4 separate regions of the Homo sapiens genome follow, and all the other regions are linked to region 1. Evidence: fine-mapped expression QTL. A gene starts in region 1. Each other region holds a variant in brackets. All regions are shown on one strand. Distances are between the middles of the regions.

The links. PIP is the estimated chance that this variant, and not a neighbour inherited with it, causes the effect.
Region 2: its variant is fine-mapped to the expression of GALNT11 in whole blood (TOPMed, PIP above 0.99).
Region 3: its variant is fine-mapped to the expression of GALNT11 in hippocampus (GTEx, PIP above 0.99).
Region 4: its variant is fine-mapped to the expression of GALNT11 in whole blood (TOPMed, PIP above 0.99).

The regions. Positions count from the first base shown.
Region 1 is chr7:152,021,236-152,029,028 of GRCh38, reverse strand. It overlaps GALNT11 (polypeptide N-acetylgalactosaminyltransferase 11), which reads right to left and starts at 3,355. Exons shown (of 12, transcript NM_022087.4): 1 at 3,145-3,355. RefSeq lists silencers at 2,821-3,520, 4,371-4,665.
Region 2 is chr7:152,091,092-152,098,884 of GRCh38, reverse strand. It overlaps GALNT11 (polypeptide N-acetylgalactosaminyltransferase 11), which reads right to left. Exons shown (of 12, transcript NM_022087.4): 2 at 4,363-4,695. The coding sequence starts at 4,657. Among named protein-coding and RNA genes, the nearest start is that of GALNT11, 69 kb to the right of the region's middle. The variant G/A (reference allele first, on the strand shown) is at 4,535.
Region 3 is chr7:153,005,664-153,013,456 of GRCh38, reverse strand. No RefSeq gene overlaps it. Among named protein-coding and RNA genes, the nearest start is that of ACTR3B, 250 kb to the right of the region's middle. The variant C/A (reference allele first, on the strand shown) is at 4,476.
Region 4 is chr7:151,932,537-151,940,329 of GRCh38, reverse strand. No RefSeq gene overlaps it. Among named protein-coding and RNA genes, the nearest start is that of GALNTL5, 20 kb to the left of the region's middle. RefSeq lists enhancers at 6,857-6,906, 6,927-7,026. The variant G/A (reference allele first, on the strand shown) is at 4,379.

The DNA.
Region 1 (7,793 bases):
GGAGTTGGACAACATGGCTTCTCCCCTTTCTAGGTCCTGTGGCAGCCATCTTGCTATTACTTGCCTTCGGGCCCTGTATTTTTAACCTCCTTTTCAAATTTGTTTCCTCTAGAATTGAGACCATCAAGCTACAGATGGTCTTACAAATGGAACTCCAAATGAGCTCAACTAAACTTCTACCAGGACCCCTGGACCAACCTGCTGGCCCTTTCACTGGCCTAAAGAGTTCCCCTCTGGAGGACACTACAATTGCAGGGCCCCTTCTTCACCCCTATCCAGCAGGAAGTAGCTACAGCAGTCATTGGCCAAATTCCCAACAGCAGTTGGGGTGTCCTGTTTAGAGGGGGGGGATTGAGAGGTGAAGCTGGCTGTGCTTCTGGGTCGGGTGGGGACTTGGAGAACTACTCTGTCTAAAGGATTGTAAATGCACCAATCAGGGCTCTGTGTCTAGCTAAAGGTTTGTAAACACACCAATCAGTGCTCTGTGTCTAGCTAATCGGGTAGGGGACTTGGAGAACTTTTCAGTCTAGCTAAAGGATTGTAAATGCACCAATCAGTGCTCTGTGACTAGCTAACTGGGTAGCAGACTTGGAGAACTTTTCTGTCTAGCTAAAGGATTGTAAATGCACCAATCAGCGCTCTGTGTCTAGCTAAAGGTTTGTAAACGCACCAATCAGCACTCTGTAAAAACCGACCAATTAGCACTCTGTAAAACAGACCAATCAGCACTCTGTAAAACAGAGCAATCAGCACTCTAAAATGGACTAATCAGCTCTCTGTAAAATGGACCAATCAGCAGGATGTGGGTGGGGCCAAATAAGGGAATAAAAGCAGGCCACTGGAGCCAGCAGCGGCAACCTGCTCGGGTCCCCTTCCATGCTGTGGAAGCTTTGCTCTTTCATTCTTTGCAATAAATCTTGCTGCTGCTCACTCTTTGGGTCTGCACTAACTTTATGAGCTGTAACACTGACTGTGAAGGTCTGTGGCTTCACTCCTGAAGTCAGTGAGACCACAAACCTACTGCGAGGAACAAACAACTCTCGACATGCCACCTTTAAGACCTGTAACACTCACTGCGAAGGTCTGCAGGTTGACTCCTGAAGTCAGTGAGCTCATGAACCCACTGGGAGGAAAAAACAACTCCAGACGTGCCACCTTTAAGAGCTGTAACACTCACTGCAAAGGTCTGCGGCTTCATCCCTGAAGTCAGCAAGACCACGAACCCACCAGAAGGAAGAAACTCTGGACACATCTGAACATCAGAAGGAACAAACTCTCGACATACCATCTTTAAGAACTGTAACACTCACCGCGACAGTCCGTGGCTTCATTCTTGAAGTCAGCGAGACCAAGAATCCACTGGAAGGAACCAATTCCGGACACATTTACGCAGCAGCCACGTCAGACTGGGACACTTCCTGCTTACAGAGGACTATAAAACCCCTTCCTCACTTGGGGCTGATGCTATTATAAAACCCATTCCTCACTTGGGGCTGATGCCATTTAGGCATAAACCCGTCTGCACCCAGGCGCTTATTAAAACAGCATGTTGCTCCACACCGCCTCATGTCGTGGGGGTTGTTGGTGCGTCATCGGGGTTCAAACCAATACAAGAGCCTTGCAGGTTGTTTGTAGCACTAACAAAGGATAAATGCTTGAGAAGATGGATACCCTGCTTATCCTGATGTGATTATGCATTCTATGCCATATCAAATATCTCATGTACCTATAAATACATATGCCTACTATGTACCCACAAAAATTAAAAATAAATTTTTTTGAGATGGAGTCTCGCTCTGTCACCCAGGATGGAGTGCAGTGGCGTGATCTCGGCTCACTGCAAGCTCTGCCTCCTCGATTCACGCCATTCTCCTGCCTCAGCCTCCCAAGTAGCTGGGATTACAGGCGCCTGCCACCACGCCCGGCTTATTTTTTGTATTTTTAGTAGAGACGGGATTTCACCGTGTTAGCCAGGATGGTCTTGATCTCCTGACCTCGTGATCCGCTCGCCTTGGCCTTCCAAAGTGCTGGGATTACAGGCGTGAGCCACCGCACCCGGCTAATAAAAAAATTTTTAAAGAGATTTATTCTGAGCGAAATGAGTGTCTATGGCCCATGACACTGCCCTCAAGAGATCCTGAGAGCATGTACCCAAGGTGGTGGGGGCACAGCCTAGTTTTATACATTGTAGGGGAACATGAGTCTTCAATCAAATACAGGTATAGACTAGTTCGGGCAGGAAAGGTGGGACAACTCAAAGTGGCGGCTTCCAGGTCATGGGTAAGATGAGAGACAAACGGCTACATTCTTTTGAGCCTCTGCTCTGCCTTTTACTGAACACACAATTTACGCCATGGGGCAGGCAGAGGAATAGCCACTTGTGCCTTAGTCTGGCTCAGTGAATCTGCATTTTTACATAAATACAGGGCAGAGGAAGCCGTCAGACATGCATCTGTCTCAGGTGAGCAGAAGGATGACTTGAGTTCTGTCCCTGTTCCTCACCTGCGAAGACAAGCTGTCAATTTACACTGCCAGGGTGCAATTCCACACAACTGTTTCAGGGTAAAGATGTGGAGGTCCACAGCGAATTTCCTCCTGGCCAAAGGGTGAGGGAGCTGTGTGGCTTTTTATCTTTGCAGCTGTCTTAGGAACAAAACTTAGGGGCAGGTTTGCCTGACGCAGCTCCCAGCTTGACTTTGGCTTAGTGATTTGGGGTCCCGAGATTAAATTTCCTTCCACACTATTCTCCCTAGTTTTGTGTATGTGTGAACTATTCTATTTCTGGGCACTTTTAATTTTAAAAAGTGGACAATACTGATCTGGACTTCATTTTAGGAAATGCTGGGGGAGGCTGCAGGATCAGGTGTGCCTCCGTCCTAAATACGCGAAAACGAGGCCAGCGCCCTGGTCCTCGCCCCCACGCCCGCGAACAAGCCTCAGGAGACGCTGGGGGAGGCGCGGGGGCAGCGGCGTCTCCCGGAGACACGAGCCTCGCCCAGGGGGCGTGCGGGAGCCCAGGACCCGCGGGGAGCCAGGCGCTGCCCCGCCGCCGCCCCCAGCCTGCCCAGGCCCCGCGCGCCGCCGCCGCCGCAGCTCTCGAGGTGCTGAGGGACGCCGGGAGGCCGCCGCCTAGAGGGTACTCACCGCCTTGCCCGCAGCCCAGGATCGCCGCCTTCTGGGACTCGGGCTGCGGCATCTTCTCTCCCGCCACAGCCCCAGTCCGACCCGCAGGAGCGGCGCGGGCTGAACTGCCCCGGGGCCCAGCAGCCAGGCGTCGCGCAGGCGCTGGGCGCAGTGGCGGCCGCGCCTCCTCAGGCCCAGGGCCCTCGCCCAGTCCCCGAGCCGCTGCCTCCGCCCAGCGCCGCGCGTCCGCCGGCGCCGCGTGACAGGCGGCCCCGCCCCCGCGCCGCGGTGACGAAACCTCTCGCTGCCCTGACGTCACCGGCCGCCGCGCGCTGAGTCCTCCCTAGCGTTCGCGCAGAGGCGCCGCGCGTGGCCTGGCTCCTGTTGTCTGTCACCCGCGGTCTCAAAAGACCCCATTAATGACAAATGCCCTGCCTGTGGCCCCGGCTACTCCGGAGGCTGAGGCGGGAGCAGCGCTTGAGCCCGGGAGCTCTGCGCTGTATGCGCTGTGCCCATTGCGCGGCGACACGCATCTGTGTTCCGCATCGGTGTGGTGACCTCCCGGGAGCAGGGACCACCAGGTTCCCCAAGGAGTGGGGAACTGGCCCAGCTCGGAAACCGGGCAGGGCAAAACTCCTGTGCTGATCGGTAGCGGGATCGCGCCTGTGAATAGCCACTGCCCTCCAGCCTGGGCAATACAGCGAGACCCCATAAGTGAAAAAAAAAAAAAAAGACAAATGCCCTTAAACATATTAAAAGAAGTTAAACGCCACTTGTGATAGAAGAAAATGTAGATTAAGGTGTAAAGAGAGAAGTGGTGAAAAAAACACTCATACCTTGGTGATAATAGTGCAATGTATACAAATACCATAAAAGGGGAATTGGCAATTTTTAAGAAAAATGGTGTGGGCATTCATCTTTGGCCAATAATGCCAAGTTATATTGAAGAATATCTTAATACTAATCTTCTTTGCATTTCTGAAATAAATCCCACTTGGTTAAGAATATTTTTGAACTTTTTTAAAGAACTCATTGCTTCACAATTAAAGTCTGATGGGGTACACGCGTAGCAATGGAGGAACTTCTACAGCTACTATAAATTAAAGAGCACCACCTGAACCAAAGTAGTGGCCTTCTTGAGCTGAACTGAGCTAACCACATTCCCCAGCCCCTCTTCCACAGATACCCCATGGGGTTGTCAGGGTGTAGGGGATGCCATGTTGTACCACCCAGGTTTCCCCTTAAGGACTGAGGACTCATTTCTCCAGTTGTTGGGTGTGTAGGCCGCTGATGGCCCCCAGCTGAGTCTTGTGGCCACTTCCCTCAGCCAAAGAGAACTGCTGCTGGGTGCCAAGTTGAATGCTTTTGACTCCTTCTACCATGCTTGTGTCTTGATTGGAGATTGACAGATATTTCAGGTACTGGTTTCTCTTGCAAGGGCAGTGCAGACAGCACACAGGTATCTTTGCCCAGTTTCCTTCAATGGTTGCAGCTCATGTAAAATATACATAGTATAATATCAAATAAGCGTCATTGGGGATCAATCCTGCTGGGATCCCCCTCAGAAACTATTCACAGCAGTGGCAGGCAAACTAGGGCAAAGTCTACTAGGTATATTTAAAAGTGTATTACAAGTTTATTTAAATACATAAATATGTTTCCAGAAAGTAATCCTTCCAACTACCTAAACTAGTAATGAAAAATGTTAAATATCACCTTAAATATGTATAAGGGGATACTAAGTTCTTGTATTTAAACCTTATTATTTTAGTATATACTCAAGCAAAAGAGTTTGAAGACCAGACCTTTAGGGCCTCACTACTCAAATGGTGGTCCAGCAACAAGCGACACCAACGTCACCTGGAGTGTGTTAGAAATGGGGAGTCTTGTGCTCCACCTACTTAATTAAAATCTGCATTTTTACCAAGATTTCCAGGTGATTTATACACAAATTAACATTTGAAATCATGCTCTAGGATTAATCAGGGCATGTAAATTTCCATTGTTTCATCTTCTCCTGACCCTTGATAGTATCAGATATTTAAATATTTGCCAACCTGATGAGTATGAGATGCATCTGTTTATTACTTTAAATACTATTCTACCTGATTAATGTGCAATAATTACTTAACCATTATTCTCGTAATTGAGGATTTGGGTTAGCTCCAATTTTTCACTATCATACAGAATGACACTAAAATGCTCTTTTCAGCGTATCATTCTGGTTAAACACAATCTTTGAGGCCACGCTGATTAGGATCATGTAAGGGCCGTGTTATTGTTTGTCCTTGGATACAGTTGCCAGATGAAATACAGGATGGCCTGAAATTTGAATTCCAGATTAAGAATAATTTTGTGGTTTAAGTATATCCTGTGCAATATGTGAGAGGCTTGTCTTCATCTGTGCTGCCATAATAAAATACCTGAGACTAGGTAGTTTAAAAACAAATTTGTTTTCCCACTCTCCTGGAGGCTGGGAAGTACAAGATCCAGCAGCCGTATCTGGTAGGCTGCTGGTGAGGGCTTTGTGCTACATCATAACGTGGCAGAGAATCGGAAGAGGAAGCGCGCACTGGCTAAAGGGGCAATGTTACTTATTAACAACCCGCTCTCAAGGTACCTAATCCAGTCTCAAGAGACTGGGAACTCTCAGTGACTGCGTTAATCTTTTCATGGGGGGCTGGTCCCTCATGGCTCAAATGCCTCTTAAAGGTCCTACTCTGTCTCAACACTGTTACCCTGGGGTCCAAGCCTCAACATGAATTTTGGTGGGGATAAAAGGTATTCAAACTGTAGTGCTGTTGCTTTGTCAGTTGTTTCAACATGAATTATGGAAGACACATTCAGAATGTAGCCATATGTACAGTAAAATGTTATTGTCTATTTGAAATTCAAGTTTAACCAGGCATCCTGTATTTTTATTAGCCAAATAGGGCAACGTTAACCTGGGCACATTCTAACCATCGTTTTCTCATCTATGAAATGAGGATAGCAGTAGAACTCATAAAGTTGTTGTATGAATGAAAGGAGATAATCCATGCAGACTACTTATAACAGAGTATGAAACGTAGTAAAAGCTCAGCAAATGTCAGCTCTTCTTAGTTGTTGTTTCATACAGGTGTGTCTTGGGATAAATTCCTAGAAGGATGTTTTAGTTACAGAACTCCTGGGCTTAATTTCAGACTTGTTTGAGCATTCCATCATACCAAAAACTGTTTTGTAAGAAACCCTAAGCAGGTTACCAGATACTTTTCAACTAGCTTCAAAATACAAATCAGATTTTTAAATTTCCACACAAAAACAAAAAATTGCCATCTATAGGCAAGTATCAATTTCCCTTTAATCACACCAAATATTTGGATATTGATTCTGATTTCTTTTCTATTTTAGGGTCAACTGAAGCAATATTTAAGAAGATACTGTCCAAGGGACATGCTGAACAATTTCTAGGACTTATCTGTGTTATCTAGTACCTAAACTAAATTACATTACAAAACTAAGACTTAATATTAGGCCCACGGCTTTTAACAAAAGAGAACACTCCTGTCTTTTGCTTTTGGGAAAGCTGATATTTACAGCATCCATTCTTTATGCTTACCAGAAAAAAAATATACTTTTTAATGTTACATATATATCATTTATATATTACATATAATAATTATATATAACATATATATATTCTCAAATTTCAACTAGAAAAAAACTGTTACTTTAAGAAGATACTCCATATTTATACTACTATAATTCTCTTTTATTTTTTCAGCTACAAGATTTCTATTTTGCTTTTTGTTTGTTTGTTTTTTGAGACAGTCTCTGTCACCCAGGCTGGAGTGCAGTGGTGTGATCTTGGTCTTGGTCTCGGCTCACTGCAACCTCCACCTCCCATGTTCAAGCGATTCTTGTGCCTCCCAAATAGCTGGGATTACAGGCACGTGCCACTGAGCCGGGTTCTGTTTTGCTTTTTTTTTTTTTTTCCTGACGGAGTCTCACTCCGTCGCCCAGGCTAGAGTGCAGTGGTGCAATCTCAGCTCACTGCAACCTCTGCCTCCCAGGTTCAAGCAATTCTCCTGCCTCAGCCTCCTGAGTAGCTAGGATTACAGGCGTGCGCCACCATGCCCAGCTAATTTTTTTGTATTTTTAGTAGAGACCGGGTTTCACCATGTTGGCCAGGCTGATCTCAAACTCCTGATCTCGTGATCCACCCGCCTCAGCCTCCCAAAGTGCTGGGATTACAGACGTGAGCCACCGCGCCTGGCCTGTTTTGCATTTTATCATAATTTTAGTAGACTCATGGGTTTATTATGATTAATTTTTAAATGACTTTCTAGAGGCAGGAAAGGTATAAATAATATATGGGCCAAGAATACAATCAAGCGTGGCACTCGTTTTGTGCTGCCAGATCAACCTTTTAAAGGATCAATCAAGTGGCTGTCTGTAATAGATCAGCTCATGTCTGTCTAGCAATAGATTTTATGCAGTATTTTGCTAAATAGATAGGTATAAAGGGGTTATTTGCGGCCGGGCGCAGTAGCTCACACCTGTAATCCCAGCACTTTAGGAGGCCGAGGCGGGTGGATCACCTGAGGTCAGGAGTTCAAGACCAGCCTGGCCAACATGATGAAACCACATCTCTACTAAAAATACAAAAATTAGTTGGGCATGGTGGTGGG
Region 2 (7,793 bases), 70 kb before region 1:
TCTCTTAATATGCCTTCTCTCTGAAACTGTTTCAAATGCAGTTCATCCTTTTTAAACACAAAACAACAAACCTCCACTAGCATTTTATACAAGGAGAGAAACTCCACAAGAGAAGAGACTTTGGTGATGACCAAAACATAAAAGAAATAAAACTAAAATTGCTTGATACCTAGAACCTAGAGCAGAGCCTTGCACAAAGAAGATTCTCAATAAATACTCCTTAATTCAACAAGTATCAGAACATGAAAGAATCATGTTCTATTATAGGTCTCTTGAAAAGATTCCATATGAAAAGATTGTTTTAGCTTACTTTTCTTATTCCCCTACTCAAAATTGTAGCCAAACCTCAATGAATTAACATGCCAGAGGACCCTTTTCAATTAATTTTATAATTAATTTCAGATTAAATGAGAAAATGTTTTTAATTTTAAATTTATTTATTTATTTATTTATTTTTTTTGAGACAGGGTCTTGCTCTGTCCCCCAGGCTGGAGTGCAGTAGTGCAATCTCGGCTCACTGTAGCCTCTGCCTCCTGGGCCCAAACAATCCTCATAAGTAGCTGGGACTACAGCCATGCGCCCCCACACTCAGCTAATTTTTAAACTTTCAGTAGATACCACCTTAAGCTGGTCTTAAACTTCTGAGCCCAAGCGATCTACCAGCCTCAGCCTCCCAAAGTGCTGGGATAACAGGTGTGAGCCACCATGCCTGGCCAATAATCTTTCTCAAATATACCTTTTCATAGGTTCCTTTCCCTGCTTGTTCAGTAATTCTCTACTCAGAAATCTGCATACTTTTAACTACTACATTATTTATACTAATTCCTTCTATATTAAATTTATTTTATGTAAGAAATTGTGGATGTTTTTCATTTTTTAACTGTGATAATTATGCACGTAACATAAAACATACCATTAGTGACATTTAGTACATTCTCAATGTTGTATGACCAGCATGATTATCTAGCTGCAGAATATTGTCAGCACCGCAGAAGAAAACCCTATACCCATTAAAGCAGTTATTCCCATTCCTCCCATTCCCCAGTCCCTGGGAACCACTCATTTGCCTTCTGTCTCCATGGACCTGCCTATTCTAGACATTTCACATAAAGGAACCCTACAACATGTGACCTTTTGTGTGTGGCTTCTTTCACAAGCATAATGTTTTCAAGGTTCATCCATGTTGTAGCATGATCACAACGTCATTCCCTTCTCTGTCTGAATAATATTCCATGGTATGGATAGACCACACTTAGTTTATCCCTTCATCAGTTGATGGATATTTGGATAACATGTTGTCACCTTCTGTCTATTGAGAATAGTGCTGCTAATGAACATTGAGTACAAGTTTTCGAGCACCTGTTGACAATTCTTCCAAGTACAAACCCTGGAGTGGTATTGCTGGGTTATATGATAATTCTACGTTTAATTTATGGAGGAACTGCCAAACTGTCTATAGTGGCTGCACTATTTTCCATTCCCACCAGCAACATGTGAGGGCTCCAGTTTCTCCACATCCTCACTGTCGCTTGCTACTCTCCTTTTTAAGTTTATTATTATAGCCCTCCCAGTGGGTGTGAGATGGCTATCTCATTGTTTTGATTTTCATTTCTGTAATCACTAATTATATTAAGCATCTTTTCATCTGCTTGTTGGCCATTTGCATATCTTCTTTGGAGAAATGTCTATCAAATCCTTTGCCCATTTTAAAATTGTGCCATTTGTCTTTTTATTACTGAGTTTTAAGAACTGTTTGGGCCCAGGCACAGTGGTTCATGCCTATAGTCTCAGCACCTTGGGAGGCAAAGGCAGGCGAATGGCTTGAGCCCAGGAGTTTGAGACCAGCTTGGGCAACATGGTGAAACCTTGTCTCTACAAAATATACAAAAATTAGCTGGGCATAGTGGTACACCCCTGTAGCCCCAGCTACTCGAGAGGCTGAGGCAGGAGGATCAAACGAGCCAAGGAGATTGAGGCTGCAGTGAGTCATGACTGTGCCACTGCCCTCCACCGCAGGTGACAGAGCAAGGCCCTGTCTCAAAATGAAATAAAATTACAAACAAGCATTCTTTATATATTCTGGATACTGAACCCTTATTAGAAATATGATTTACAAATATTTTCTCCCATTCTGTGGGTTGTCTTTTTTCACTTTTTTTTTTTTTTTTTTGAGACAGAGTCTTGCTCTGTCGCCCAGGCTACAGTACAATGGCGCGATCTTGACTCACTGCAACCTCCGCCTCCCAGGTTCAAGCAATTCTCTTGCCTCAACCTCCCGAGTAGCTGGGATTACAGGCACCTGCCACCACGCCCACCTAATTTTGTATTTTAGTAGAGATAGGGTTTCGCCACGTTGGTCAGGCTGGTTGCAAATTCCTGACCTCAGGTGATCCACCCACCTCAGCCTCCCAAAGTGCTGAGATTACAGGCATCAGCCACTGCGTCCAGCCCTTTTTTCACATTCTTGATATGTTATTTGATGTACGAAAGTTTTTGTTTTTGATGTAGTCCAATTTATTTTTAAAATTGGAAAGTCTGAGTCTTACAACTTTGTTCTTTTTCAGACTGTTTTGGCTATTCAGAGCCTCTTGTAATTCCATATTAATTTTAGGATAACCTTTTCCCTCTTTACAACAAAGACCACTGACATTTTGATAGGGATTGCACTGAATCTACATATTGCTTTGGGTGATACCTACATCTTAACAGTATTTAGTATTCCATTCTATGAACCTGGAATATCTTTCAATGTGTGTAGGTTTACTTTGATTTCTTTCAGCAATGTTTTACAGTTTTCAGCATACAAATCTTGCAGCTCCTTGGCTAAATTTATTCTTAAGTGTTTTATGACTTTTGATGCTATTGTAAATGAAATTGATCTCTTAACTGCATTTTTCAGGCCACTTGTTGCTACAGTATAAAAATGCAACTGGTTTTTGCCTGTTGATCTAGTACCTGCAACTGCCAAATTCATTTATTACCTCTAATAGGTTTTTTGTGGATTCTTTACGATAGTCTATAAGGAATTTAGTTTTTCAGTTAGGCAGCTGGAGTTTGTTATTCAATATCTACAATTCTCTCACTACTTCTTTCAAAAGCAAATACAGAGTCTATTCAAAATGGTAAACTCAGTATTACTTCTTGATAAAAGCTTTACCAATGTAACTATAAATAAATAAAAGAGCTAGACATTTTCCCATTAATGCTTTAAAAATGTCCACTGGCTATTTGAAAAAGATTTATGAAAATTGTACTTTATGAAAATTGAAGTTGGTGAGATCACGTCTCTATTTAAAAATATTTTTAAATGAAAACTGAAGTAGATATTAGCTTGTTTCCTCATAAAATTTTACATACTTTTGACTTCCTATATTAGAAAATCATTAAGTCCTAAGAACTGATTTTATTTCTTTGAAACTATGACCAAGTGAAAACTCTATTTTAACATTTCTTTCACATTCTAAGGCTCTCTCAATCTCTCAAAAATCTCTTGTATTTTACTCTTAAATTACCTATTATTTGATGTTTTTGTGACAAGATCCAAGTTCTTTAAGTTTTAATGATAACAAAAATTGCTCACTTATCCCTTAAAATAAAATGTCAAAATCAACACTCTAAAATTGCAGTATTCAAAGGCATAGACAATAGAGTCTTGCATCCAAGTTGAAGAGAATATAATTTTTTAGGAGGAAAAAAGGGCTATTTTATAACTAAGATTTCATAAACTATATTATATATACATATATTTTTTCTAGCACCTTAGTAATTCTTGTTAAGTGAAAATCATATTAGATATAAATAACCCCAGCTTATTTTTAAACTCAGTACTTTATGTTCTGTATTAATTAAATGTACCCTTAAAAATAAGTTAAATACAGTCAAGGAAACTTTCAACCATTTCTTTCCCTTATTAACAATTCTAGCAATTAAAACCTTCTTCCAGGGCTGGGCACAGTGGTGCATGCCTATAGTCCCAGCTACTCTCAAGGTTGAGGTGGGAGGGCAGCTTGAGCCCAAGAATTCGGGGACAGCCTGGGCAATATGGTGAGACCCCATCTCTTAAAAAAACAAACAAAAAACAAACCCCTTCTCCCATAGGTTCCATTTTCTTTCTAGCCTTTTAATTTTTCTTCCCTGGACCTTGTTTGTTTTCTCATAAGATACTGAAGTCAGAACTGGATAAATTAGAATATAACTCCCCACTGAGTCTGCAGAAACCACAGAACTTCAGGTAGTTCACAAACAAAATAAATCAGTGGGGAAAAAATGATGCAGCATTTCTGATCTCCTAATTAACTAATTAATCAAACTTCCAGTGATTAAATACATTGATATGGATGCTGGTAAACATCATATACTTACCTAATTCAGAAGAGAATTTCAAGTGGCCTTCTTCTGGATCTTCAACACGACTGTCTATCACATCGTCAATTTTGTTTGCTTTGAACTGTGGCTCGAGCACTCGACTTGGGCCTCGAGTGAAACGGGGATAGAATTTTTTTGGAGATGGTCCGTGGGGCCCAGACCCCTTGAC[G/A]GGCACATTCTTAAGTGGCTGAGTCACTTCACTGAAGTTGAAATAAACAAAAAGCAAAACTGTCCAGGTCGCAGATGTAAAAAGGCACCCATAACAGAAATACCGAACTGTGACACTTCCCATTATAGACCTAGCATAGCTGAAGGGCCATTGTCAATTTCCTAAAAAAGAAGAATAAATATGTTAGACACTTCAGTATACTTTAAACCATCCACCAAATACAGAATCACTGTTTTCCAAACCACCAAGTAGGACCACTATGCGTACAGTTAACGGATATTCAAATACAAGAAGATGTATGGATAGTACTGAGTTTTTAAAAAGGGTTCAACAATGAAAACCTCAGGCCTGTGGGTTAATGCTCAGAGAACCAACGGCAGTGAAATAGCTGACTGATTCATTTGCCCATGTTAATGGATACTTCTTCACCTTTGTTCTGGACTGCTTTCAGTTGCGTAATTTTTCTCATCAGGTTATAATTTTCACAAGGAAAATAACAAGTACCACATGTATCATAACAGGACAACTAAAGTCTCTTCCAACCAAAGAACTGCAAGATTCTTTTTTTAATCCAAGGATCTTAAAAATCTATTATTAAAAATAAGCAACTCTAAGCAACTCTGGCCAGGTGTGGTGGCTCATGATTGTAATCCCAGCACTTTGGGAGGCTGAGGTGGGCGGATCATTTGAGGTCAGAAGTTCGAGACCAGCCTGGCCAACCTGGTGAAACCTTGTGTCTATCAAAAATACAAAAATTAGCTGAGGGTTGTGGTGGGCGCCTATAATAATCCCAGCTACTTGGGAGGCTGAGGCTGCAGAACCTCTTGAACCCGGGAGGCGGAGGTTGTGGTGAGCCAAGATTGCACCACTGTACTCTGGCCTGGGCAACCGAGCAAGACTCTGTCTCAAAACAATAAAAATAAATAAATATAAACAACTTAAAAAAAATTCTACTTTCCAATCAAAGGTTATGCCTGCCCTAGTGTGCACTCTAAATCTAAGTTATTTTCAAATAAAGAGTTCAAGTAATTATATTCCCTCACCTATAAAACAAGGCAAGAAGAACTAAATGTAGCACTGAACAGCAATTTTTCCTAAGCTTTTTTTTTTTTTTTCCTTTTTAAGACAGAGTCTCACTCTGTCACCCAGGCTGGAGTAAAGTGGTGGGATCTTGGCTCACTGCAACCTCTGCCTCCCGAGTTCAAGTGATTCTCCTGCCTCAGCCTCCCAAGTAGCTGGGATTACAGGTGCGTGCCACCATACCTGGCTAGTTTTTGTATTTTTAGTAGAGATGGGGTTTCACCATGTTGGCCAGGCTGCTCTCAAACTCCTGACCTCAGGTGATCTGCCCGCCTTGGCCTCCCAAAGTGCTGGGATTACAGGCGTGAGGCCACCGTGCCTGGCAATTTCTCCTAAGCTTTCTGATATCTGATCTTCATGGAGGCTAATACAATTTCCTAAGGAATTCTAAGGAGCCCAATGCACATATAAAATCATCTCAGTAAACAGACTTATGGCAGAGAAACCATATAAGCAATGTAGATACATAAGAAAACTGCACAGAGATACTGCTTTTAAGTTACTTATTTCTACAGCATAAAATAATCTTAAAAATGGTATTGTCCCCAAAAGATCAGGACAAAGCAAACTGGCATCAGTAAAGCACCACTGTAAAAATTAGGTTCTCTTGTACAAGGTTATGCCATAAGCCTAGAAGATGGTAAACAGTTCAGTTTCTTAACTGTCTGCCAACCAAGAACTATTAAGTATTCTACTACAAGTTAATTAAAAAGTAAAAAAACAAAACAACAGTAACATACCAAAACAAAACAAAAACCCAACCAAACAAAAACTCCCACCAACAGTAATACCAGAGGCATGGCTGGAAATGACAATAGTACAAAGGAAAATCAGGCGCCAGTGAAAGCGCTGCTATGTCAGCTGCAGGTACTTTTAAAACTAAAGACATAAACAGAAAAACACAAATACTTGAAGTAGAAGAAAATGTTCTCTAAGTAAGGAAGCCCATGAGAGCAAATGAAAAGACAAAAAAAAATTGCAATGTGCAACTTTGTAACAAAAATATTGCAACAAAAATGTACAGAGCAGTGACATTTAGGGGAAACAGACATTATAACTCCCTAAAATGTTCGCTTAGGGTAGACAAAGAGCAAGTAAACAAACAACAAAAACAAAAGCACTGCTTCTTCCACAGGCCATGAGATCCTGAAGTTAAAGAGTGTAACCGGACAGGCTGCTCTGAATCCACGAGGAACCAGGCACCTAGGGAGCCAACCCCTTCTTCATCCATATAGCAAGGTCCACGCTTACAGGTTGTTTTCCTCAAACCACTCCCGGCCTTCCCGCTTCCACCATGGGCTGCTTGGCCCTCACAAAAGGGAACCATCCAAAACAGACCCTGAAGAAACCAAGAGCTACTCCATTAGCAGCTATGAAAGATGGACACTGATGTCGTTTCTCGTGTTTTCTTTAGCCTGATTCCCACTATCATGTTGGACCATGCCCAACCCTGCCTCCAAATGTCTTGGTTAGTGTTCCTGCTGTCACCTTTACCTAAATTCCACATAAGGAACTTTGCCCCACCCTCAATTTCATCATCATCCAGGACTGATGTGATGACCTCTTCATGTCTAAGTTGAAACTTTCCTCTCCGGCTGGGGGCGGTGGCTCACACCTCTAATTCTAGGACTTTGGAAGGCTAAAGTGGGCAGATCACCTGAGGTTGGGAGTTGGAGACCAGCCTGGGCAACATGGTGAAACCCCGTCTCTACTAAAAATACAAAAAATTAGGGCCGGGCGCGGTGGCTCACGCCTGTAATCCCAGTACTTTGGGAAGCCGAGGTGGGCGGATCACAAAGTCAGGAGTTTGAGACCAGCCCGGCCAACATGGTGAAACCCTGTCTCTACTAAAAATACAAAAAATTAGCGGGACGTGGCGGCGCACACCTGTAATTCCAGCTACTCGGGAGGCTGAGGCAGGAGAATCGCTTGAACCCGGGAGGGGGAGGTTGCAGTGAGCCGAGATCGCGCCATTGCAATCTAGCCGGGGTGACAATGCGAGACTCCGACTCACACACAAAAATAATAATAATAATAAAATAAATATATATATAAATTAGCCAGGTGTGGTGGCGGGCGCCTGTAATCCCAGCTACTTGGGTGGCTGAGGCAGGAGAAATTGCTTGAACCCGGGAGCAGAGGTTGCAGTGAGCCGAGATCGCACCACTGCATTCCAGCT
Region 3 (7,793 bases), 980 kb before region 1:
GGCAGAGGTTGCAGTGAGCCAAGATTGTGCCACTGTACTCCAGCCTGGGCGACAGAGAGAGACTCCTTCAAAAGAAAAGAAAACAGACTTAACTGGCTCACGGTTCTGCAGGCTGTACAGGAAGCATAGCAGTGTCTGCTTCTGGGAAGGCCTCGGGAAGCTTTTACTCACGGCAGAAGGTGACGCAGGAGGAGGCACTTCACAGGGCCGGAGCAGGAGCAAGAGAGGGAGAGGAAGGGGCCATGCACTTTTAAACAAGCAGATCTCACAAGAACTCACTCACTATTGCGAGGACAGCACCAAGGGGAGGTAATAGGGCTGTGGGCTTCGTGGATCTGCACATTTGTAAAAGTTGCAGACCTCAGTCTTGGTGTAACTGGCATGATAGGAGGAATGCATCTCCCAACCTATCGCCTTTACAACATCATTCCCCAGTTAGGGAGCCGCTTTCTGTTCACCACAGAGCCCCACAGGAGGGTGGCACAGAGGCCACTGGCGGTCATCTCCCTCTTAGCATGGGGCATGTGATGAGCTTCCTGATGGAAAACATGGTCCGAAGGCAGATTCTGAGAGGAGAGGACGGAGGCAGGGAGTTTTCAGAGGCCAGGGCAGAACAGAAGAGGTGGGAAGTCCTGGAGCAATCTCTAGCTTCCTCGCAGCATTTATTCAGACCCATAATGAGGGATTTGAATGTTTGGGCCAAATGTGTCACATCCACAATCCATTCCTTTATTTTCTATTCAAGCACTTGTTCATTCACACTTCTGCTCACCTACAAATAATTGTGTACCTGCCATGTGCCAGGAATGGTCATAACTAATGAAAACAGATGGAGATGGTAACAGCAGCACACAGCTGTCTGTTCTAATGGAGCTCACAATTGTGCATGGGCACGTGTGTGTGTGTGTGTGTGTGTGTCAGGGCAGCGGGGAGACCACCATCACCCAATAATCATACAAATAAGTAGAAGATTACAGTTCCGGTACAAGCGATTAAAACAGGTGCACAGGGCTGTGAGAACTGAAACCTGAAGAGATGTGGAGGAATTAATTCTGCCCAGCTGCAGAGGGCACAGCACAAACCTGACTAGGCAGGTCCCTTTAGGCCACATTGTGCCAAAGGATGGTGTGTCCAGCACAGTTTTGTTTGTTTACTTTAAGTTCTGGGATACATGTGCAGAATGTGCAGGTTTGTTACATAGGTATACCACATGTGCCATGGTGGTTTGCTGCACCTATCAACTTCTCATCTAGGTTTTAAGCCCGGGATGCATTAGGTATTTGTCCTAATGCTCTCTCTCCCCTTGCCCCCCACCCCGCAACAGACCCCAGTGTGTGATGTTCCCCTCCCTGTGTCCATGTCTTCTCATTGTTCAACTCCCACTTACGAGTGAGAACATGCAGTGTTTGGTTTTCTGTTCCTGTGTTAGTTTGCTGAGAATGATGGTTTCCAGCTTCATCCATGTCCCTGCAAAGGACATGAACTCATCCTTTTTTATGGCTGCATAGTATTCCATGGTGTATATGTGCCACATTTCCTTTATCCAGTCTATCATTGATGGGCATTTGGGGTTGATTCGAAGTCTTTGCTATCGTAAATAGTGCTGCAATAAACATACATGTCCAGCACAGTTTTGGCAACTAGTCTCTAGTGGTGAAGCTCACAGCTGAGAGGATGACCGCAGTGACTCACGTAAAAGGAAAGCCAAAGGCTACAGAGGGAAGATGCTCTGGAGTCAGAACACCTGGGGCACACCTGGCTTCCTGCCCAAGCTCTGCCCCTTAATCACCATCTGACCATGGACAAGTCACTCAGCATCCTGAGCTTCAATCCTCTTATCTCCGAGCCTGGACTATGCACCTCACAGGGTTTTGCGTAAATTAAACCAGGTAGTGTGAAAACACTCAGACCAGTCTCTAGGACAAGGGAGGAACTCGATGACTGTTGACTAAATCTGATCAGCACCCTTCCACCCCAATGGAATAGGTCACTCTTCCTATGCCACTGTCCTTTCCTCCATGCTGCTTCCTTCCATCAACTATCACTGTCTCTTTGGAGGCTCCTTACAATTAGTGGCTGTGTTTGCATTTTGAGGACTCACACCTGGGACGAGTTCCTCATCCTGACACTCGATGCCTGCCACATTCTGGCCTGACTTCCTCTGAAAATACAGTCTTTATCCTGATGAGGAACTGGGGTCTTCTTGTTCCTCAAGATGTTTGCTCCTTCCCATCTCTGCTGAGTAAAGTGCCATTGAGCACCTAAAGGTGTGTGACTCTGCGTTCAGCACTGAGGGATAGAAAGGAAGTGTCAGAATGAGTCCATGCCTCCAGGGAGCAGAAACACACCAGAAACTCTGGGTGATCAATTGAATGTCACACTGCTGGGCCTGACTGATCCCATAGCACTGGAAAGAGAGCACCCAAGAAGGAGGACAAAGAAGGCTTCACAGAGGAGGAGGCTGAGCTGCACCATGACACTGAGGTGAGATCAGGCAAGAGGAAACAGAAGGATGTGAAGGCAGTTTCAATGCAGCGAAGGCAGAGGGTTGTGCAAGAGCTTCTATCACTGTTCGGCATGTGCATGAAGAGGCGCTGGGAACCAGGCCCTGGTGGGAATGAGGACCCGCTAGGGGGTGTCTCGCAGGCCAATCAGAAGCATGCTGCCTTCCTCTCCACCACCCCAGTAATAAAATGGAAGAAATAGAAAGTGACTCTCACAAACTCGAGCTGGACGCATTTCCGAGGGACTGAGTAACTCCCAAATTTGAGGGAAGGGCTGAACAGCCAAACCACAGGAAGACGGAAACTAGACAGTCCTGGCCAAGCTCCCATCGCTCTGCACAATCACCAGGGTCCCAGCTCCAGTCTGCGTGGCCACCGCTCACCATTCCCGTTCCCAGGAGGACAACTGTGATTGGCCTGAGATGGAAACAATGCTGTCCCCAAATCAGTCAGTGACCACAAGTCAGTGCATGGGGAGGACAAGAAGGCTCAGAAACCATGAGCGTCTCCTGTGTACTGGGGCAGTTTCCAGGGAGTAAGTCATCATTGGCTGAGGAGACCCCCTGCACAGGCGATCTGCTGCACCCCAGGTCAAGGCTTAGCTGAAGCCCTGCCTCTAGTCAGGGGAGGGCACATATCACCATCTCCCCATAATGACTAAAGAGGGAAGAGTGCAGCCTGGGGTGATGAGTGTGAAGAGGCTGATTTTATGGACAAGCTAAGACTGGACCTTCAGAAATAAACCCCCTCTTCCTGCGGACCCACAAGTGGTCTTCTGGGAAGCACTGGATACCTGCCAGCCACAGAAGGTTATCAAGACTGTGCAAGCCGGGCACAGGAGTTTACAGCTGTAGTCCAAGCACTTGGGGAGGCTGAGGCGGGAGGACTGATTGAATCCAGGAGTTCAAGACCAGCCTGAGCAACATAGCAGGACTCTGTCTCTTAAAAAAAAAAAAAAAACTATTCTGAAAAAGAAAAATATTTTAAAATCATACCTGTGGCAGCATTTAGTTAGGAAAGCTCAGCTTATTTAAGTAATATTTAATTTGATTGTGAAAAAGCTTATTTATATGTTGTCTCTTTTCCTATATACTCAGTATGGGTTTTTTAAAAAGATAAACTTACGCATATTAAAATCTTAATGAGGCTAGGTGCAGTGGCTCACACCTATAATCCCAACACTTTGGGAGGCCGAGGTGGGCAGATAGCTTGAGTCCAGTTGTTTGAGACAAGCCTGGGCAACATTGTGAACATTTTTTTTTTTGTAGAAACCCCACCTACCAAAACCAAAACAAAACAAAAACAAAAATTAGCCAGGCGTGGTGGCATGCACCTGTAGTCCCAGCTACTCAGGAGGCTGAAACAGGAGGATCACTTGAGCCCAGAGGTTGAGGCTACAGTGAGCCATGATCATGCCACTGCACTCCAGCCTGGGCAACAAAGTGAGATCCTATCTCAAATTAAAAAAAAGACTTCATGCAGTCAACCAGGACACAGCCTCTTCCCCGCTGCATTTCTCTCTGGGCTGGCAAAGCTGTCTCCTAATGCCAGCAAGTCACTTGGCTGGGGATAGAGCTCAGAGCCCTGCTGGCTTCTCAGACTGTATAACCGTCACCACCAGAGTGCCCAGTCCACGCATCTGCATGGAGCCAGCCAGCGGCATTTCCAGTACTTTCTCATTCTCTAATAGCATTATTTCCAATAAGTCATAAAAAAAAAACTTTTGAAATATGTTTTTGGGAATATTGAGAAAAAGCTACTTTCTAAGTAAGGCAGTAGTAAAGAGAGGAGAGAGAGGAATATAAAAATAAAAATAACTGGCATTCACATAGACTCATGTATCATGCAGAGCACTAGAATGGAGGACATTTCCCAAGGTCACAGAGTAAATTATTAGAAGAAATGGAACCAGAGCTCTCCTTTTCTGACCAGGTGCCCTCGTGGAACTGCTAAACTTGGCTCATTGAGAAT[C/A]AATGAAACAAGATCTTTTTCTATTCCTCCGTTGCTTTCCGTCCTGTTTCCCAGATTCCTCGTTGAGAATCCCAGGCTTAGGAAGCCCTGGGACACAGCACCCCAGTTGAAGTCACCCTTCTCATGGGATCAGCTGAGGTCTCACCTTCTATTTAAAGCCATTTTCTCTCCACGAGGAAAATCATCTGTGCATTCATCCAAGATGTGAGCACACAGTCCCAGGGGCCCTCAGGATGGTTCTCCAAGTAGCCTCGAACCGACCCATTTCTCTCCTTTTTCCCAGCATGTAGCTCTCAGAATAACTGTAAGATGTGCTGGGGATGTAACATCCTGAGACAGGGAGGAACTGCCTGAAGCAGCCAGGCCTTGTCCTGTTCCTCCTAAAGAATATCAGATCTTGAGTTAGGGAGAGGCTGCCCGGGACAGCCCCGGCTCCGTGCCTGCCTCCCCTGGGAGCAGGATGTCCTTCAAAGCTTTGCCCAGCCCTGCACTACATTACCCAGGTGGGCTGTTCTTCAGGGTCCCTCGGCCGTGGTCTAAGTGGGGCACACGCAGTTGAGACTCCATCAGCCCCGGGATAGCCTTCTTGAACCTTGGGGGACAGGCTCACAATGGATCTGAGACATCTTCTGTCCCTGGCTGCCAATTTCTAAGGAATACCCACCTCACATAGCTGGTTTCGTGTGAGCGTGTTTTGTTTCACAGACTTGGGCAGTTGGTAAATCTGTAGCCCAAGATGGCATGGGCAGAAGCGATTGGACTCCTACTCCTGGAAACTGGCAGGGTGATGATCTTCGCTTTCTACCCTGTCTGGGAGTCCTCCCTTGGGATTAGTGATTAGCAAACCTGCTCTGCACAATCCCGGGGTCCTGTTTTGAGATTCTACTTGCTGCGGGGACTTTGAGTACCAATTATGGCACCGGTCAGGATGCTGACGGAAACAGCATGCTTGAATAAAAGCAAATGAAGAAGGTTTATGGGAGGGGTACCCCCAAAGTTGCTGGCCAGGTTAAGGGAAATCAACAAAGGAAGATGAGTGAACCTGGAGCCCACATCTTTAGGAAGCCATGGGCATTCCTTAGCCTGAGATGGAAGGGGAGGGCTTGGTTATCCGAACCTAGTGAGAGCTGTAACTGTTAGAAAAGGTGGAGCCCAAAACATCAGGTGGAGAAGGGCAAACATTGCCATACTGCAACCCAGCAAAGACGTCCCAGGGCGGTACATAGCCTGGCCTCTCCTCCCTGCTTTCCACCTCCTGTCGGTGCCTCTCGTTGGTGGAATACAACGCGAAGCCACTGGACAAAGGAGCCTGAATGTGTCCGGAGCCCAGCCTTACACGGTGCAGAGCGGTGTGTAAGAATGGAGGCAGGGAGAATGGATCTGGAGAGACAAGCAGAGCACACCCAGCTCAACAGCGAAGTCGCCAAGCCCAGCTCAGTTACTTTATCCAAGTCACAATTTCTCTGGGCCTGTATTTTCTCTTCTACACAATGCCTAGCACACAGCAGTTCCTCAAACAGCAAGCGTTTGCTGAATGAGTGAATGAATGAATACACGGATGAATGGGCAGGGAAGCGGCCCCTGTGATCCTGAAATGAGTGGCACCTCCGCCTCCACCCGACAGCACTAGCACCCCACTCTCATCTTGGGTTGTTTTGCACCTTCCTCTCCCTTTGTCAGTATCTAGGACCTGACTATATTCAATAGTCATCTGAGCCGTGGATGCTGCAAGTGAAGGGGATCCATGCCAGGCCTCGGTGTTAGGATGGGTGGTAGAGCCAGGGTCCCTCAGGGCTCACAAGCATGTGCCGGGAATCACACCAGCCAACACTCACCAAAGGACAGGAGGAAAAGCCACCATGGGTGGGATATCGAGGGTGGCTCCCGCTGGCTCCCCCACCACTCCTGGTGATGTTCTCCCCACGACTGTCTTATAATAGGACCTGTGGCAGTCCTGGGGAAACACCAAAATGACGGTGGGGAGCTTTGTGGAACATCGTAGGCCCAGATCCCTACAACTAGATAGGGCCAGACCCACCCATGATCCCTGAGCCTTAGAAGATTGGTGAAGACCCTGAGTTCCCAGAGAATGTTTGCTCGTTGTAAATATGTCTCTGGGAAGGATGAAATGTCCTCCGCAACCATCACACAATAAAAGTTGGCTGAACAGAAATGCGTCTGTTGAAATGGGTGGAAACCCACAGTGCAAGGTTAAGGACTGTCCTGGGCAATCCCTGCTGCCTCTAGCTGGGCCCATGGGACAATGAGAAGTGAGGGAATGAGTTCTGCCTCTAGAACAGGAGACATTTACACCCTGGCACCTGAGCTTTGGGTAGTCTTCCTGTGGAGTGGAAGCCCTGTGCTAAGTGCCCAGATTGGCCCCAGCTGTCTCTGTGAGGGCACCTGCACAGTCTGGGGGTCTCTGGGACCCTGGTCCCCTCTGACATGAAAGTTTTGCTCTGGGGTATGCTCCCTCAAGCCCCCAGACTCATTGCCTTGTAGAAAGATATTAGATGGCCAAGCTCCAGACACTGAGGGAAAGGCAGGTATTTGTGCAGTAGCTACCTCAGCAACGTTGGTTATAACCAGCCCAGCCCAGCTTGTAGGACATGAATCTGAGGTAGCCAGTCAAATGAAAGGCATGTTGTAATTACTATTTTGTTCCTATGCGGCACTGAAGCTGTGACTCTCGCCTTGGGGTGATGTTAGAGGCAATGGGGTGATTTCGAGGAAAGATACTCTGGCCCCCAAATTCCTACTGCAAATGCCTGAAATTCCTTCTTTTCAGTTTCAGCCCTTTGGCTGAGGGCCAGAATAGTAAATCTTTGAATAATGTTTGTCTTCCATTAGAGCCTTAAAAAGTCTTTCAATAAATTCTTATTGCTTGTATTTCTTTCCTTGGGGTCCTGTGAATTGTATCTACAACCGGGTCCGAGGGACTGGTAAGAACTGCTAGGGAGACAGGCACATGGTCCACAGTCATCCACCCCCTCTTCCTCGGGAGTAAAGCTGTTCCTTCAACTGAAAACACTTCCTTAGAAGCCACATGGCAGAGACACAGGTAAGTGATGAAAAAGCGCACCGCTGTTTTAGAGACACAAAGTGTTGTATTTTGTGAGGACACCCAAAGTACCACTTGTGTAGACCCACAGCAGGAAGGAGTGAACGGAAAAGTAGCTGAGACAGGTTTCAATCAGCTCAAGAAGTTTGTTTTGCCAAAGTTAAGGATGTACCCGTCACACGGCCTCAAGAGGTCCTGACAACATGTGCCCAGGGTGGGCAGGGCACAGCTTGATTTTAAACATTTTAGGAAGAAAA
Region 4 (7,793 bases), 89 kb after region 1:
CTTGTCAGCTTTGGATATTGCAAGCGTGTTCTCCCATTCTGTCCTCTGTCTACAGGGATACCTCAGAGATGTTGTGGGTTCAGTCCAGATTACTGCAATAAGGCAAATATTGCAATAAAGTGAGTCACACATTTTTGTGGTTTCCCAGTGCATATAAAAGTTATGTTTCTATACTGTAGTCCATTTAGTGTGCAATAGCATTATGTATAAAATGTACTGTATTAATTAAAAATACTTTATTGCTAAACAATGGTAACAATTATCTGAGCCTTCATGGAGTTGTAATCTTCCTTTGGTGGAGGGTTTTGCCTCGATGTTGGTGGCTGCTGACTGATCAGGGTGGTGGTTCCTGAAGGTTGGGGTGGCTGTGGAATTTCTTAAAATAAGACAGTAATGAAGTTTGCTGTATCCATCGACTCTTCTTTTTTAATTTTTTTCTACCCCTGCCCTTCCCCTGACTCTTCCTTTCACAAAAAGATTTTTCTGTAGCATGTGATGCTGTTTGATAGAATTTTACCCAGAGTAGAACTTCTTTGAAAATTGGAGTCAGTCCTTTCAGACCTTGCCACTGCTTTGTCAGCTAAGCTTATGTAATATTCTAAATGCTTTGTTGTCGTTTTAACAGTGTTCATAGCTTCTTCATCAAGAGTAGTTTCCATGTCAAGAAACCACGTTCTTTGCTCATCCAAAAGAAGCAACTCCTCATCCTTTCAAGTTTGATCATGAAATTGCAGTTCAGTCCCATCTTCTATTTCTCTTGCATTTCCACCACATCTGCAGTGACTTCCTCCACTAAAGTCTTCAACCCCTCAAGGTCATCCATGAAGACTGGAATCAACTTCTTCCAAACTCCTCTTAATGTTATTATTTTGATCTCCTCCCATGAATCACGAATGTTTCTAATGGCATTTAGAATGGTGAATCCTTTCCAGACGTTTTCAATTTTCCTTGCCCAGATCCATCAGAGGAATCACTATCTATGGCAGTTATAGCCTTATTAAATCTATTTCTTAAATAATAAGACTTGAAAGTAGAAATTAGTCCTTGATCCATGGGCAGAGAATGGTGATCGTGTTAGCAGGCAGGGACACGACATTTATCTCCTAGCACATCTCCCTCAGAGCTTATAGGTGACCAAGTGCATTGTCAATGAGCAGTAATATTTTGAAAGGAATCTTTTCTTCTGAGCAGTAGGTCTCAACGGCGGGCTTAAAATATTCAGTAAACCATGCTGTAAGCAGTTGTGTAGTCATTCAGGCTTTGTTGTTCCATTTCTAGAGCACAGGCAGAATAGATTCAGCATAATTCTTAAGGACGCTAAGATTTTCAGAATGGCAAGTGAGCACTGGCTTCAGCTTAAAGACACCAGCTGCATCAGCCCCTAGCAAGAGAGTCAGCCTATCCTTTGAAGCTTTGAAGCCAGACATTGATGTCTTCTCTCTAGCTATGAAAAGTCTTAGATGGCATCTTCTTCCAATAGAAGACTGTTTAGTCTACATTGAAAATTTGTTGTTTAGTGCTCCTGTCTTCATCAATGATCTTAATTAACTAGATCTTCTGGAAAACTTGTTGCAGCTTCTCCATCAACACTTGTTGCTTCATCTTACACTTTTTTATGGAGCTGGCTTCGCTCTTTAAATCTCATGAACCAATGAGGTTCAAAAGCTTCAAACTTCCTTCTGCAGCTTCCTCACCTCTCTCAGCCTTCAGAGTGGAAGAGAGTTAGGACCTTTCTCTGGATTCGGCTTTGGCCTAAGAGAATGCTGTGGCTGCTTTGATCTTCTATCCAGACCACTCAAACTTTCTCTGTATCAGCAATAAGGCAGTCTCACTTTCTTATCATTTGTGTGTTCCCTGGAGTAGCAGTTTTAATTTCCTTTAAGTACTTTTTTTTTGAGATGGAGTCTTGCTCTGTTACCCAGGCTGTAGTGCAGTGGCATGATCTTAGTTCACTGCGGCCTCCACCTGCCAGGTTCAAGTGATTCTTCTGCCTCAGCCTCCCAAGTAGCTGGGATTACAGGTGCACACCATGCACACCACCACGCCCGGCTAATTTTTGTATTTTTAGTAGAGATGGGGTTTCATCATGTTGGCCAGGCTGGTCTTGAACTCCTGACCTCAAGTAAGCCGCCCGCCTCAGCCTCCCAAAATGCTGGGATTACAGGCGTGAGCCACCGTGCCTGGCCAAGAACATTTTCTTTGCACTCACAATTTGGTTAACTGTTTGGCACAAGATGCCTAGCTTGGGGCCTATCTCAGCTTTCGACATGCCTTCCTCACTTAGCTTAATTACTTCTACCTTTTGATTTAAAGTCAGAGGCCTGTGACTCTCCTTTTCACTTGAACACTTAGAGGCCATTGCAGGGTTATTAATTGTCCTAATTTCAATCCCCAGGGAACAGGGATGCACAAGATGAGGGAGACAGACAGAGGAATGGCCAGCTGGTGGACCAATTAGAACACATACAACATTTATCAATTAAGTTCACTGTCTTATATGGGACCCCCAAAACAACTACAGTAGTAACATCAAAGACCACTGATCACAGATCATCACAATGATATAATAATGAAAAAGTTTTAGATACTGCAAGAATTACCAAAATATGACACAGAGACATAAACTGAGCATGTGCTGTTGGAAAAATGACACCAACAGACTTGCTCAAAGCAGGGCTGCCACAAACCTTCTATTTGTAAGAAATGCAACATCTGGGAAGTGCCATAAAGCCAAGCATGTTGAATAAAAGCCTGAATTAACTTTGTCAGTGGGCCACTAGTTGACCAGAAATTTTTCATTCTGATGTACTAAAAATCATCTTCCTTTTTTTTTTTGCTTACAGCTTGTGTTTTGAAATTTTAAGAGGTCCTTCCCCACCCTTGGATCGCAAGGAAGTGTGTCATCACCATATTCTGTTAACTTATCATTTTACTGTTCATATTCGGTATTGGCTTCATTTTGAATAGTCCTATGTATGTGATGTTGGTTTTTTACCCCTGCAGACACTGAAATGACTTCTAAATATCCACAAGTAACTCGTCCTTTCCCCACTGATTCCTGGGCTGTCTTTATCATGTAATGATTCCCATGTAATATAGTCTCTCTCTGGGCTCCCTCTCCTGTTCCCCTGGTCTGTGTGTCTGTCCTTGGTTTTGTGTTGTATCTTAATTCCTAGTTGAGCAAGTTTGACTTAGCATTTCATGGATTTTTATACTTCCATAAAAAATTTAAATCAGGGCCAGGCGCAGTGGCTCATGCCTATAATCCCAGCACTTTGCGAGGCTGAGGCGGGCGGACCACTTGAGGTCAGGAGTTCGAGACCAGCCTAGCCAACATGGCGAAACCCCGTCTCTACTAAAAATACAAAAATAAGCTGAGCTTGGTGGCACATGTCTGTAGTTCCAGTTACTTAGGAGGCTGAGGCAGGAGAATCACTTGAACCTGGGAAGCAGAAGTTGCAGTGAGCTGAGATCACACCACTGCCCTCCAGCCTGGGTGACAGAGTGAGACTGTCTCAAAAAAAACCCCAAAAAACAAAAAACAATTAAGTCAGGTTTTCAAAGTCCTTAATAGGATGGTTGAAATTCTGATGGGAAATCTGAGTAGCATAAAGGCATTCTAAGTGGGGAAATGATAGGCGTGAAGGTAGGAAAAATGAGTAAGTCAAGGTTAAGGCACGTGACCCATTTTTGATGAAGCTAAAGGTATCGAGGTATCTTAACATCACCAAGTTCTTTCTCTTTTCACAGTTTAACAAAGTTAAGATCAAGGTATCAGTTATACTTTTATTGTATAAAAGCACATAAGATGACCTATATCCTTTACTCATGCCAAGAAAACTACCTGCTTTACCCACTCTGCTCTTGATGCGCTGTTTAAAAAGCAGTTTCACTTCCATAGCAACACATTCGTTTCCTTTCCACTTCCTGTAATACTTGCTAACTTTCACTTCTGGTTTGTTTTGACTCCTCTATTTTGGAAGTCATTTCGTTTTCAAGTAAAGTAAACATGAACAACTCTAAAATACAACTTATACCTCTGTGTCTTAGTCGAAACAATACAAACACCCTAGCACTTTTCATCTTTAATTCAACTAGACGTTCACTACCAGATGGCATACTAGGCCCGTTGAGTTTTGCATTACTTAGTTCCTTAAAAATAAAAGGAGAGAGGCTGGGGCCGGTAGCTCATGCCTGTAATCCCAGCATTTTGGGAGGCTGAGGCGGGTGGATCACTTGAGGTCAGGAGTTCGAGACCAGCCTGGTCAACATGGCAAAACCCCATCTCTACTAAAAATACAAAAATTAGCTGGACGTGGTGGCACATGCCTGTAATCCAGCTACTTGGGAGGCTGAGGCACGAGAATTGCTTGAACCC[G/A]GGAAGCAGAAGTTGCAGTGAGCCGAGATCATGTCACTGAACTCCAGCCTGGGCGACAGAGCGAGACTCCATCTCAAAAACAAACAAACACACACACACACACACACACACACACACACACACACACACACACAACAGGGAGAAATAAAAGCAAAGTGCTCAGGTCAGGCTCTGGTCAAACCAGGGCAAAACAGACAGCTCCCCAGGGAGCTCAGGAGGAATTCCCAGCTCCTGCAGGGCTGAGCAGAGAGACCAGCTGGAGAATACACTTCCTTTTCCCTCTTCTTGTCTTCCACCTGGCCCTTATTTCCATTTCTGCTTTGTCTCCAGGCAGGTGCACACTCCACCTTTTCTCATTGATGTGATGGTCCCCACTCCTCTGTCCTGCCAGATTTAGGTCAGCTGTTCTGAGCACACGGCAAAGCAGCTTTAGACTCCTGCACTGTCGAAAAACACTCGCTGAGCCTGAGTAATTGCAAGGAAAACGGATGCATGCTGTCAGATCCTCCACTGCTATTTTCTCACACTGAAGTCTATTTTTCTTAGGTATCTAGATACCTTTAATTTCCATTTCTCTCACTCCTTTCTTGCCATCTGTTCATTTTATTATTGTTCCTTATTTATACATTAACATTAAATATACTCTTTTGAACGTATAATAATGACTTTCATAATTAAAACATTTAAATGGCTTATTCCTTCTTTCTTCGAACTATTTTTATCTACTTATTTATTTTGAGATGGAGTTTTACTCTGTTGCCCAGGCTGGAGTGCTGTGGTGCGATCTTCGCTCACTGCAACCTCTGCATCCTGGGTTCAAGTGATTCTCATGCCTCAGCATCCCAAGTCGCGGGATTACAGGCATGTGCCACCATGCCCAGCTAATTTTTGTATTTTTAGTAGAGACAGAGTTTTGCCATGTTGGCCAGGCTGGTCTCGAACTCCTGACCTCAGGTGATCTGCCTGCCTCAGCCTCCCAAAGTGCCGGGATTACAGGCATGAGCCACCGCACCCAGCCTCTTTCTTCTGATCTTCGTTCTCAGCTCTCACCAAACTGGCTTAGAGACTTCACTAGGAAGATGTGTCCTCCGCCATCCCAGAATTCTACAGGTAAGTCTTTCACCATCTTTATAGCCCAGTGGTCAAATAGCAGCTCGGGATCAGACAGGTGAGGCTGCATCAGTTTCACTTCCGCTCTGCAGTTCATTATCTGTGTGGCCTTGGGCAGCGTCCGGGACTTCTCTGATTTCCTGTAAACCAGGCTTGCTAATGCTGCCCCCATAAGATTGTTGTCATTTTAAAACAAGAAAATTCAGGCAATTCGTGTAACCTGGTGCTTGGCACATGGTGAAGGCTCGATTAATGGTGGCTACTGCTCCTTCCACCTGGCTGCCCACTGGGAGGACAGATGACAGGAAAGGAAAGAGCTCTGCTGACGGTCGGAAGGTAACGTAGTACCATCCTCTATGAGCAGTAAAGCTGAAGAAGCCCAGTATAATGAGCCAGCACTCCCCTTTTAGGATATTCTAGAAAAGTTCCCATATACAGACAAGGAGGCAAGGCCAAGTGTGTTCACCACAGCATTGTTTGTTATGAGGAAAAATGGAAATAACCTAAATGTCCCAGAATAAGAGAACTGGTAAATATGTTGTGATATTTATACAACCAATAGCATACAGAAGAGGAAAATGAATGAAACAGAAACACAAGGAAAAACTTCAAAAGTATAATATTGTGGGAGAAAAACAGATTGCAGAATAATACATGCAGTGTGACAGTAACTTCTTATAAAATTTCAAACATATAAAACAGCAGTGTGCATTGTATTGGCACACATACATGTAGAGAAGTATAAACATATGTATGGGAGTAATACAGATAAATTCAGAACCATGATTACTTTAGGGAGAGGATATATTTAGGGACCCTCAACTGTATCTATTTTACCTTTTTAAAGGATCTGAAGTAAATGTGGGGCAAAATGTTAAGATCTGATAAAGCTGGTTTGTGGGTGCATGGGTATTTTTATATTATTCTCTATATACATTTAAAAAGTCTGTAATATTTCATAACAAAAAAACTAATGGTCTTACATGTTGAAATAGTACTCACAGAAATTAATTCCTTATAACCTATAACATTCTTCATTGTATCTATTAAATATGATTGGTTTTGGCGGGGGGGCGGGGGGGCCGTGGTTCACACCTGTAATCCCAGCACTTTGGGAGGCCGAGGCAGGTGGAGTCAGGAGTTTGAGACCAGCCTGACCAACATGGTGAAACCCTGTCTCTACTAAAAATACAAAAATCAGCTGGGTGTGGTAGTGGGCGCCTGTAATCCCAGCTACTCAGGAGGCTGAGGCCGGAGAATCACTTGAACCCAGGAAGCGGAGGCTGCAGTGAGCCGAGATCACACCACTGCACTCCAGCCTGGGCAACAGAGCAAGCCTCTGTTAAAAAAAAAAAAAAAGACTGGTGTCTTTTATTTCATAGATGGTCCACAAGAGGGAGATCTAGAATAATTATGTGTAAGGAGAACAGCCTCCTAGGGCTTGTCGGGAGTGCTATGGAAACCAGGTGTCATCGGACAGTCCTACCGCCCTCTGGCAGGAGAGGCGATGCCCCTACCCCTTGTTCCCAAACCTACACAACAACTCCTTACGGCAAAGAGGACACATCACAGGGCGCAGTGACAATCTGAACCGTGTTGTGTTTTCTTGTTTTGTTTTGTTTGAGACGGAGTCTCGCTCTGTCGCCAGGCTGGAGTGCAGTGGCGCGATCTTGGCTCAGTGGAACCTCCGCCTCCCGGGTTCACGCCATTCTCCTGCCTCAGCCTCCCGAGTAGCTGGGATTACAGGCGCCCGCCACCACGCCCGGCTAATTTTTATATTTTTAGTAGAGACGGGGTTTCACCATGTTAGCCAGGATGGTCTCGATCTCTTGACCTTGTGATCCGCCCGTCTCTGCCTCCCAAAGTGCTGGGATTACAGGCGTGAGCCACCGCACCCGGCCTGAACAGTGTTTTAAAAAACACAATGTAACAAATTGTTGGCAGAGTAAGTAACACCCAGCAGCTAGAGGAAGGGAGTTGAGAGTGCAGGCAAACAGGCGCGACCCACGGGTGTCCCTGGCACCTATGGCGGGTGCTCCCTCCATTCCTTTGGGACGCTTCCTAAGGCGCTGTTTTTCTTGTTATTCTGTACACTTGATTCCCTCGAATTCTCAGGAAAATGCTGCCAGCGGCCAATTCACCAGTAAAGAGCTTTTATTACACAATCATATAATAAATATGACCTCAGAGCTGGCTTTTATCCAGGCTAATGCCCACAGAGAGGGGACCGTGTTCTGGCCACCTTTGGAGACTGGGCTTCCTATTGAGGGTTGGGAGCCTTCTCCTAAAGAACTAATCAACCAGA